Regions from separate parts of the Homo sapiens genome. Here all the other regions are linked to region 2. Evidence: fine-mapped expression QTL. A gene starts in region 2. Each other region holds a variant in brackets. All regions are shown on one strand. Distances are between the middles of the regions.

Region 1 (2,685 bases), 250 kb after region 2:
GTTAAAATGACAATACTACCCAAAGCAATTTACAATTCAGGGCAACCCTTCTCAAAATACCAGTGAAATTCGTCACAAAAAGAGAAAAAAAATCCTAAAATGTATATGCAATCACAAAAGACCTCAAACAGCCAAAGAAATACTGACCAAAAAAAACGAAGCTGGAGTGGCCAGGTGCAGTGGCTCACACCTGTAATCCCAGCACTTTGGGAGGCCGAGGCAGGTGGATCATTAGGTCAGGAGTTCAAGACCAGCCTGGCCAACATGATGAAACCCCGTCTCTACTAAAAATACAAAAATTAGCCAGCTGTGGGCCGGGCGTGGTGGCTCACGCCTGTAATCCCAGCACTCTGGGAGGCCAAGGTGGGCAGACCACGAGGTCAGGAGATCAAGACCATCCCGGCTAACATGGTGAAATCCCATCTCTACTAAAAAAAAAAATACAAAAAAAAAAAAAAATTAGCCTGGCGTGGTGCCTGTAGTCCCAGTGGTGGGTGCCTGTAGTCCCAGCTACTCAGAAGGCTGAGGCAGGAGAATGGTGTGAACCCAAGAGGTGGAACTTGCAGTGAGCCGGAACTTGCAGTGAGCCCAGATCACACCACTGCATTCCAGCCTGAGTGACAGAACGAGACTCCACCTCAAAAAATTAGCCAGACATGGTGGTGCGTGCCTGTAGTCCCAGCTACTAGGGAGGCTGAGGCAGGAGAATTCCTTGAACCTGGGAGACAGAGGTTGCAGTGAGCCGAGGTCGCACCACTGCACTCCAGCCTGGGAGACAGAGCGAGACTTAGTCTCAAAAAAAAAAAGAAGGAAAGAAAAAGCTGGAAGCATCAAACTGCCTGATATCAAAATATTCTACAAAGCTACCATAGCCAAATCAGCATGGTACTGACATAAAAACAAACACATAGATCTATGGAAGAGAACAGAGAACCTAAATATAAATCTACACATTTATAGACAGTTCATTTTCAACAAAGGCACCAAAAGCATACAATGGGAAAATAGCAGTCTTCAATAAGTGCTGCTGGGAAAACTGAATAACGATATGCAGAATGAACTAGATGCCATCTCTCAGCATAAACAAAATCAAAACAGATTAAAGACATCTAACACCTGAAACTATAAAGCTACTAGAGGAAGAAACTGGGGAAACAATCCAGGACATTGGTCTGGGTAAAGATTTCTTGGGTAAGACCTCAACAGCACAGGCAACAGGAGCAAAAATAAACATATGAGATTACATCAAACTAAAAACTTCTCCACAGCAAAACAATCAACAAACTGAAGAGACAATCTAGAGTATGGGAAAAAAATATTTACAAACTATCCACCTGACAAAGATTAGTAATCAAAATATATAAGGAACTCAACTTGATAG[CA/C]AAAAAAAAAAAAAAAAAAATCCGATCAAAAAATTGGCCAAAGGTCAGAATACTTGTTTCTCAAAAAACGACATACAAATGGCCAACAGGTATACGGAAAAAATGCTCAACATGGCTAAACATCAAAGAAATACAAATCACACATTACCACAATGAGATGTCATCTCACCTCATAGGGTGGCTTTTATAGACAGGGAATAACAAATACTGATGAGGATGTGGTGAAAAGATAATCCTTGTATGCAGTTGATGGGAATGTAAATTAGTACAGCCACTATAGAGAACAATACTCAGGTGTAGTGGCTCATGCCTGTAATCCCAAAACTTGAGGCTGTGGTGGGAGGATCACTTGAGCCCAGAAGTTCGAGCCAGCCTGGACAACACAGGAAGACCTGTCTGCACACATATGCACACATAAAACCTGTCAGTCACAGTGGCTCATGCCTGTAATCCCAGCTCTTTAGGAGCCCAAGGCAGGTGAATCACTTGAGGTCAGGAGTTCGAGACCAGCCTGGCCAACATGGCGAAACTCCATCTCTACTGAAAATACAAAAATTAGCTGGGAATTGTGGCGTGCGCCTGTAGTCCCAGGCAGGAGAATCACTTGAACCCAGGAGGTGGAGGTTACAGTGAGCCGAGATCATGCCACTGCATTCCAGCCTGGGCAACAGTGAGACTCCGTCTCTAGAAAAAAAAGAGAGGTTGATTCATGGGTAAAATACACAGTTAGAAGAAATAAGAACTAGTGTTCAATAGATCAGTAGGGTGACTACATTTAACACTCATCTATTGTACATTTCAAAACAGCTAAGAGAATAACTTGATTTTCCTGCAATAAAGAAAGGATAAATATTTAAGGTGACAGATATTCTACTTACCCTGATTTGATAATATAAATGCATCAAATTATCACATGTACTCAGAAAACATGTACGTCTATTATGAATCAAAAAACTTTTTTTGAATTTTCAAATAGAGGGTGGGAGATTCTGGGGCCACCATGTCTGTGGGTAAAGATATTCCCTTGTCAGCCAGGCGCGGGTGGCTCACACCTGTTATCCCAGCACTTTGGGAGGCTGAGACGGGCGGATCACGACGTCAGGAGATTGAGACCATCCTGGCTAACACGGTGAAACCTCGTCAATACTAAAAATACAAAAAATTAGCCGGGCGTGTTGGCGGGCACCTGTAGTCCCAGCTACTCAGGAGGCTGAGGCAGGAGAATGGCGTGAACTCGGGAGGCAGAGTTTGCAGTAAGCCCAGTTTGTGCCACTGCACTCCAGCCTGGGTGACAGAGAAAAAC
Region 2 (2,685 bases):
TGGCCTTAGGTGCCCTGCCCCCAGCCCCAGGTGTTTTTCCTTTGATTTAACTTTAGGAAATTATCACGAATTGGCCTTAGATTCCCCGACCCCAGATCTTGGTGTTTTCACTTTTAGGAAGTCCGCATGAATCTTATCTATGCTCTTAACTACGTCCTAATTTTTGTGTTTTTTGTCTTTTTTATAGGAATAGGGTTTTGCCATATTGCCCAGGCTGGTCTCGAACTCCTGAGCTCAAGTGGTCTGCCTGCCTCAGCCTCCCAAAGTGCTGGGATCACTGGCGTGAGCCATCAGGCCCAGCCTCTATGTGCTAATTTTTGAACAAATTCCAATAGGAGCATTCTAGTCTCTGAGTGTGAGATGACCAAAAATCAAGCCCTTGTGAGGCTGAATAGAGTCGGGAGGCAGGGAACTTAAGGCTGTTTCAGGCCGACTTCCTAGAACTAAATTGAAAGGAAAACCCTCACTTTCCTCGCCTAAATAACAAAAGGACCAGAGGCTACTCCCTTTGACCTTTTCTGCTGGCAGATAGGAAATTGGCTGTCTGCAACAAATCAGACTGATGGCCGGTTGAGTCTTCATTTGCATAGAAGTGTAACTTTGTAACGTCGTAACTTCACCCTAGCCTTTGATTGGTTGCTTTTTGCAACCAATCAGATGTTTGCACAGGAGTGTGACCTTTGTAACTTCAGACTCTGGTTGGCTGCTTTCTGCAACCAATCAGACTGAACGCGGGCTACCGCTTCATTTACAGGAGGTGAGCATGAAGTGGCCAATGGGAAAATTCTAGGAGGTATTGGGACTCATGAAGGTTCTGTTTCGGAGCCCTTGAGCTGCCGCTTGGCCAGTTCCCACACTGTGGAGTATGCTTTCGTTTTCAACAAATCCCAGCTCTTGTTCTTTTGTTGCTTCATTCTTTCTTTGCTTTGCTGGGCGTTTTGTCTAATTCTTTGTTCAAAACGCCAGTAACCTGGACAGCTTGCAGTCAAGACCCCCTACCGGTGACACTTGCGCTCTTCGGGGAGGTAAACAGCATTTCCTCTCAGCTCTGGGTTGGAAAAAGCCGCAGCAGCTGATGGGCCCGGGAACCCGAGGCCCCGCCCCCTAGGTGGTCCTAGCCTTTGCGCGTGCGCGGCGTGTCTGCGTGGGCGCATGCGCATAACGGCCGCCATCTTAACAGCGCGTTCCCGTTGGCGTCTGAGGTAAGTTTTTGTTTCTGGGCGGCGTTCGGTGGTGTCCCGGTGCAGCCACGCGAGAGTAGAAGGGTGGAAAGGGGAGGTGCCCAGTGAAATGGAGCCTGTCCCGTGCACTTTCGGGCATTTCGAGCATCTTGTGGGCTCTCCCAAGTCGCGGCCCCTCCTCTGAGAGCCACAGTCAGGTCTGTCCTCAGGGGTCGAGGCGGCTGCGCTGGGGCCTCGGCCCGGGAGGAGGCGGGGGGCACGGCCTTTCCATTTTCCCTGCTCCCCTCTGCAGAAGCCTCATAGGGCCCGGCGCGGCGGCTCACGCCTGTCATTCCCAGCGCTTTGGGCGGATTGGGTAGGAGGATTACTTGAGGCCAGGAGTTCAAGACCAGGCAGGGCAACATAGGGAGACCCCCCCCCCCAACCATCTCTAATGGAAAAAAAAAAAAAAGTCTCCACATCCAGCGTTGTGCCTTTTCTCTATAAGGAACAGCATCTCTGCCTTCCTGTTCACGGTGACCTTCGCTTGGTGTCCTCCTGGCCTCAGCAACCTGACAATTCTGTCGTGTCCCGGTGAGCACTTCATGCACTTGTTCTGGCTGTGGGTGTCGGGTCTTGAAGTTTAAGTTGTGTCGAGGTGGAAAGAAACCTTTTCAGGTGGTTGTTCGAGAGCACATGGATCTGATACCATCGAATGCATGAGTGGATGAATGCACATAACTGTAAAATTTACCACCAAGGAAAAACACAGGACTACTCAACTGTGGTTCCAGGCCATCACCTAGATCTCACTCTAGCGCCCTGTAGATTCCCCCAGAGGTTCAAAACGAGGGCATCCCCAGGAACACGGTGCGGGCTGATTTACTAGCAGGAGGGATTGAATTGATAATGAATGCGAAGATAACTTTTGACAGGTGGGTTTTCTACCAGTTACTCATTTGAAAGTCTTACTGAGGGCGGGGCAAGGTGGCTCACACCTGTAATCCCAGCGTTTTGGGAGGCTGAGGCTGGAGGATCGCTTGAGCCCAGGAATTTGATGCCAACCTGGAAAAAATAGGGCAAGCCTCTGTCTCTACTAAAAATAAAAAATTAGCTGGGCATGGTGGTGTCTGTGGTCCCATCCACTTTGGAGGCCGAGATGCGAGGATCACTTGAGCATGGGAGGTCGAGGCTGCTGTGAGCCATTATTGTGTCACTGCATTCCAGCTTAGGCAACAGAGTGAGACCCTGTTTCAAAAAGAAGAAAAAAAAACAAATACTGATCTAGAGAACATCTGTAGCTCGAGTAAAACAAATGTCTTTAGTCCAGGTGTGGTGGCTCACGCCTGTAATCCCAGCATGTTGGGAGGCTGAGGCTGGCGGATCACGAGGTCAGGAGTTTGAGACCAGCCTGGCCAACATAGTGAAACCCCGTCTTTACTCAAAATACAAAAAATTAGCCGGGCGTGGGCACCTGTAATCCCAGCTACTCAGGAGCCTGAGGCAGGAGAATCGCTTGAACCTG
Region 3 (2,685 bases), 110 kb after region 2:
AAACTGTCCTTGATTTACTGATTTCAAATTCCATGTTTATTAAACTATAAATTCCTATGTATACCTGTATCTGATTCTAGACTCTATGCCAGTAATACATTTACTTATGCCAATATCAAGATCATAATCTTTTCATTCCAGTGGTTTTGTATCAACTAATAATATTCCGTGGTAATAATAATAATAATGGTAGCTTTTTTGTTTGTTTGTTTTTGAGACAGTCTTGCTCTGTCACCCAGGCTGGAATACAGTGGTACGATCTCGGCTCACTGCAACCTCCACCTCCTGAGTTCTAGGGATTCTCCTTTCTCAGTCTCCTGAGTAGCTGGGATTATAGGCACGCGCCACCACGCTCAGCTAATTTTTGTATTTTTTTTTTTTTTTTTTTTTAGTAGAGATGGGGTTTCGCCATGTTGGCCAGGGTGGTCTCAAACTCCTAACCTCAGGTGATCTGCCCACCTCAGCCTCTGAAAGTGCTGGTGTGAGCCACCGCACCTGGCGGTAGCTGTTTTTTAAATCTTACTACCCTAAATGCTTAATAGACATTAAATTTTTACGCTCCCAATGATGTGGCTATTATTGTGATTTTTCCCTTTTGGTTTTTAGACCAGCTGTATTGAGATACAATTCACATATAACCAACACAGTTCACCCACTTAAAGCTATATAATTCAATATTTTTTAGTACATTCGCAGTGTTGTTCAAACATAATTTTGGAACATTTTAATCACACTAAAAGAAATCTTTGAATGGGAAAACCCATTTACCTCCTCTTTAAGCTCCAGGGAACCACAAACCTACTTTATCACTACAGATTTTTCTTTTGTAGACATTTCATATGGATATACTCATACAATTTATTTTTATTTTTGTATAGACAGGGTCTCACTATGTTGCAAGGCTGATCTCGAACTCCTGGGCTTAAGTAGTCCTGCCTCGGCCTCCAAAAGTGCTGGGATTATAGGCGTGAGCCACCATGCCCGGCCTAAAAATCATACAATCTTTTGTGAATAACTTTTTTCACTTAGCCCGTTTTTCAAGGTTCATCTGTATTATAGCCTAGATCATTCTATTTTATTGCTGAATGATATTCCATTCTATGTATATACCATATATGATTTGTCTTCAGTTGATGGACATATGGTTTGTTTCCACTTTGGGGGTGTTGTGATTAATGCTGCTATGAAAATTCACATATATCTTTTTGTGCATA[C/T]TGGCTTTTATTTTTTGAGAAATCACAGCTCACTGCAGCCTCTACCTCCTAGGCTCAAGCGATCCTCCCACCTCAGCCTCCTGAGCAACTAGGACCACAGGCATAAGCCACCACACCCAGCTAATTTTTGTATTTTTTTGTAGAGACAGGGTTTTGCCCAGGCTGGTCTCAAACTCCTAAGCTCAAGCAACCTGCCCGCCTCGGCCTCCACAAAGGCATAAGCCACCACGCTCAGCTGGTTTTTATTTCTCTAGAGTATATATCTGGGAATGGAATTGCTGAGCCATACAGTAACTATCTAAGAATTTGAAGAACTGCCACACTGTTTTTGAAAGGGGCTGTACTGTTTTACATTCCCACCAGAAATGTATGAGGGCTCCAACTTCTCTACGTCCCTGCTAACACTTTAGTGTTTTTCATGTTAACTGTGTTAGTGGTGTGAGGTGATACCTCATGATTTTGACTTGTATTTCCCTAACACTAGTGATGTTCAGCATCATTTAATGTGCTTTGTTAGCCATTTGTATGCTTCTTTGGAGAAATTTCTGTTCAATTCCTTTGCCCCTTTTAAAATTTGTTTTCTGGCTGGGCACGGTGGCTTGTAATCCCAGCAATTTGGGAGGCTGAGACAGACAGATCACTTGAGGCCAGGAGTTCAAGACCAGCCTGGCCAACATCGTAAAAGATAAAAAATCAGCCAGGCGTGATAGCACACACCTGTAATCCCAGCTACTCGGGAGGCTGAGGCAGGAGAATCGCTTGAACCCGGGAGGAAGAGGTTGCAGTCAGCCAAGATTATGCCACCGCACTCCAGCCTGGGTGATAAAGTGAGACTCTGTTTCGAAAAAAAAAAAAAAAAAGGTCCGGGTGCAGTGGCTCACGCCTGTAATCCCAGCACTTTGGGAGGCCAAGGCAGGCAGATCACCTCAGGTTGGGAGTTCAAGACCACCCTGACCAACATGGAGAAACCCTGTCTCTACTAAAAATACAAAAAAGTAGCCAGGCATGGTGGCACATGCCTGTAATTTCAACTATTCAGGAGGCCAAGGCAGGAGAATCGCTTGAACCCAGGAGGCGGAGCTTGCGGTGAGCTGAGATGGTGCCATTGCAATCCAGCCTGGGCAACAAGAGCGAAACTCTCTATCTTAAAAAAAAAAATTCCATTGAGTTGCAAGAGTTCTTTATATATTCTGAAGAGAGGTCCTTATCATATATATGATTTACAAATATTTTCTCTCAATAGGTTTTCCTTCTCTTTCTTGATGGAATATTTTAGAATACTAAACTATATAATATTGATGAGTGTCCTCTGAAGTACAAGTTTAATGTTGATAATTTTTTGTTTGCAATGTTTTTGATACTGCACCTAAGAAAACAGTACTAAATCCAGTATCATGAAACTTTTCTGCCTATACTTCTGGGAATTATTGTAGGTCTTACATGTATGTTTAGGTCTTTGATCCATTGTCAG
Region 4 (2,685 bases), 280 kb after region 2:
GGCAGGAGAATTGTTTGAACCCAGGATGCAGAAGTTGCAGTGAGCCGAGATCGCGCCACTGTACTCCAGCCTGGCGACAGAGCAAGACTCCATCTAAAAACAAACAAACAAACAAAACAAACAAGCAAAAAAACACCAAAAAACAAACAAAAAAAATGCACTAAGTATAATAGAGGCAGGATTGCTTGAGCCCAGGAGTTTGAGAGCAGCCTGGGCAACATAGCAAGCGACTATCTCTACAAAAAATTTAAAAATTAGCTGGGTGTGGTAGAGCACCCCTGTACTCCCAGCTACTTGGGAGGCTGAGGTGGGAAGATTGCTTGAGCCCAGGAGGTCAGGGCTACAGTGAGCTGTGTCTGCAACACTGCACCTAGCCTAGGTGATAAAGCAAGATGAGAGGGGAAGGGAGGGGGGGGAGGGGAGGGGGGAAGAAAAGAAAGGAAGGAACGAAGGGAGGGAGGGAGGGAGGGAGGGAGAGAGGGGGAGAGAGAGAGAGAAAGAAAGAAAGAAAGAGAGAGAGAGAGAAAGAAAGAAAGAAAGAAAGAAAGAAAGAAAGAAAGAAAGAAAGAAAGAGAAGGAAGAAAGGAAGGGGAAAGAAAGAAGGAAAGAAAGAAAAGAAAAGAAAGCAAGAAAGAAAGAAAAGGAGAGGGAGGGAGGGAAGGAAGGGTGAAAAAGAAAGAAAGAAGGAAGGAAGGAAGGAGAAAGAAAGGAAAGGAAGAAAGAAAGAAAGAAAGGAAGGAAGGAAGGGGAAGGGAAGGGAAAGGAAAGGAAAGAAGGAAAGGAAGGAAAGGAGGAAAGAAAGAAGGAAGGAAGGAAGGAAAGAAAGAAAAAGAAAGAAAGAAAGAAAGAAAGAAAGAAAGAAAGAAAGAAAGAAAGGAAGGAAGGAAGGAAGGAAGAAAAAGAAAGAAAGAAAGAGCCGGGTGCGGTGGCTCACGCCTGTAATCCCAGCACTTCAGAGGCCGAGGTGGGCAGATCACCTGAGGTCGGAAGTTCGAGACCAGGCTGACCAACATGGAGAAACCCCGTCTCTACTAAAAATACAAAATTAGCTGGGCGTAGTGACACATGCCTGTAATCCCAGCTACTAAGGAGGCTGAAGCAGGAGAATCGCTTGAACCTGGGAGGCCGAGGTTGTGGTGAGCCGAGATCACGCCATTGCACTGCAGCCTGGGCAACAAGAGTGAAACTCCGTCTCAAAAAAACAAAAAAACAAAAAACAAAAAACAAAAAAAGATGAAAGAAAGAGAGAGAGAGGGAGGGAAAGAAAGAAATTAGCAAACAAATTCCAA[C/T]GCCATGGTAAGAAAGTAGTAAACCCAGTGGCATTTACTCCAGGAATGTAAGGTTGGTTCTGGCTGATTTGTATCTTTGTATTAGTGCATTCACCATTATGGATGATGTGTGGAGTTTGCCCACAGCAATACTCAAGACCCTTTCAGACACATCCTCCCCCAAAGGGGAACATTCACCTGTTCTCAGGGGTAAAACTGCAGCCTCAGTGGAGGACAGATGAAACCCTCTGCTCTGACGGACTAGAGAATGCAGTGGGGGATAGACGGCAGCCTCGCCAGACAGCAGTCAATTCTCTGGCCCTCTGCAACTCTGGATAGGGCTGAGTCCCTACTTTCAGGTGGGGAGAGTCACTCTGGGGGCTTCAAGAACACTCTTCTGTCAGTCCATCCAACCAGGTTCAGGAGCCAATGGAAGAAATCTGAGAAAGGAAGGGGTTCTGTTGAAGATGGCTTTTGAGAATCACTGAAATAAATGCCTGGTAGGTCTTGAAATTCTAACTTCTGACGTATTAGTCCATTTTCATATTGCTATGAAGAAATAACAGAGACTGGGTACTTTTTTTTTTTTTTTTTTTTTTTGAGATGGAGTCTCGCTCTGTCACCCAGGCTGGAGTGCAGTGGCACGATATCGGCTCACTGCAACATCCGCCTTCCACGTTTAAGTGATTCTCCAGCCTCAGCCTCCTGAGTAGCTGGGATTACAGGTGCACGCCAACAGGCCTAGCTAATTTTTGTATTTTTTAGTAGAGACAGAGTTTCACTATGTTGGCCAGGATGGTCTCAACCTCTTGACCTCGTGATCTGCCCACCTCGGCCTCCCAAAGTGGAATTACAGGCATGAGCCACTGTGCCAGGCCTTTGTTTTGTTTTGTTTTGTTTTGTTTTGTTTTGTTTTGTTTGAGATGGAGTATTCCTCTGTTGCCCAGGCTGAAGTGCAGGGGCACGACCTTGGCTTACTGCAACGTCCACCTCCTGGGTTCAAGTGATTTTCCTGTCTCAGCCTCTGGAGTAGCTGGGATCACAGGCGCCAGCTACCACGCCCAGCTAATTTTTTGTATTTTTAGTAGAGATGGAGTTTCACCATGTTGGCCAGGATGGTCTCAAACTCCTGACCTCAGGGGATCCACCCGCCTATCCTCCAAAAGTGCTGGGATTACAGGCGTGAGCCACCACATCCGGCTTGATAACTCTTATTTTTTTGTAGAGATGGAATCTCACTATGTTGCCCAGGCTGATCTTGAACTCCTGGCCTCAAGCAATCCTCCTGACCCAGCCTCCCAAAGTGCTGGGAATATGTGTGTGAGCCACCATGATCAGCCAGAATAGACAACTTTTATTATTTTTTAAAATATTTTGTACTATTTTTTTTCGAGATGGAATCTTGCTCTGTCACCCA

Which allele goes with the higher level. Alleles are on the strand shown, and positions count from the first base shown. SD is a standard deviation of normalised expression in the study named. Not every link is listed here.
With allele CA in place of C in region 1, the expression in subcutaneous fat of the gene that starts at base 1,153 in region 2 is higher (large effect, 1.8 SD a copy in TwinsUK).

The links. PIP is the estimated chance that this variant, and not a neighbour inherited with it, causes the effect.
Region 1: its variant is fine-mapped to the expression of ZNF559 in subcutaneous fat (TwinsUK, PIP 0.95). The same link has a PIP of 0.9 or more in lymphoblastoid cells.
Region 3: its variant is fine-mapped to the expression of ZNF559 in fibroblasts (GTEx, PIP 0.97).
Region 4: its variant is fine-mapped to the expression of ZNF559 in whole blood (INTERVAL, PIP above 0.99).

Annotation. Positions count from the first base shown.
Region 1 is chr19:9,577,599-9,580,283 of GRCh38, forward strand. All of the region lies in intron 1 of ZNF121 (zinc finger protein 121), which reads right to left. Among named protein-coding and RNA genes, the nearest start is that of ZNF121, 5.6 kb to the right of the region's middle. The variant CA/C (reference allele first, on the strand shown) is at 1,382.
Region 2 is chr19:9,323,027-9,325,711 of GRCh38, forward strand. It overlaps ZNF559 (zinc finger protein 559), which reads left to right and starts at 1,153. Exons shown (of 7, transcript NM_032497.3): 1 at 1,153-1,202; 2 at 1,669-1,754. ZNF559-ZNF177 (ZNF559-ZNF177 readthrough) reads left to right here and starts at 1,153. Exons shown (of 13, transcript NM_001384659.1): 1 at 1,153-1,202; 2 at 1,669-1,754. RefSeq lists an enhancer at 997-1,246 and a silencer at 1,417-1,556.
Region 3 is chr19:9,436,898-9,439,582 of GRCh38, forward strand. The region is part of intron 1 of LOC105372269 (a long non-coding RNA gene); the gene reads left to right. Among named protein-coding and RNA genes, the nearest start is that of ZNF266, 2.7 kb to the left of the region's middle. The variant C/T (reference allele first, on the strand shown) is at 1,215.
Region 4 is chr19:9,603,225-9,605,909 of GRCh38, forward strand. No RefSeq gene overlaps it. Among named protein-coding and RNA genes, the nearest start is that of ZNF561, 17 kb to the right of the region's middle. The variant C/T (reference allele first, on the strand shown) is at 1,290.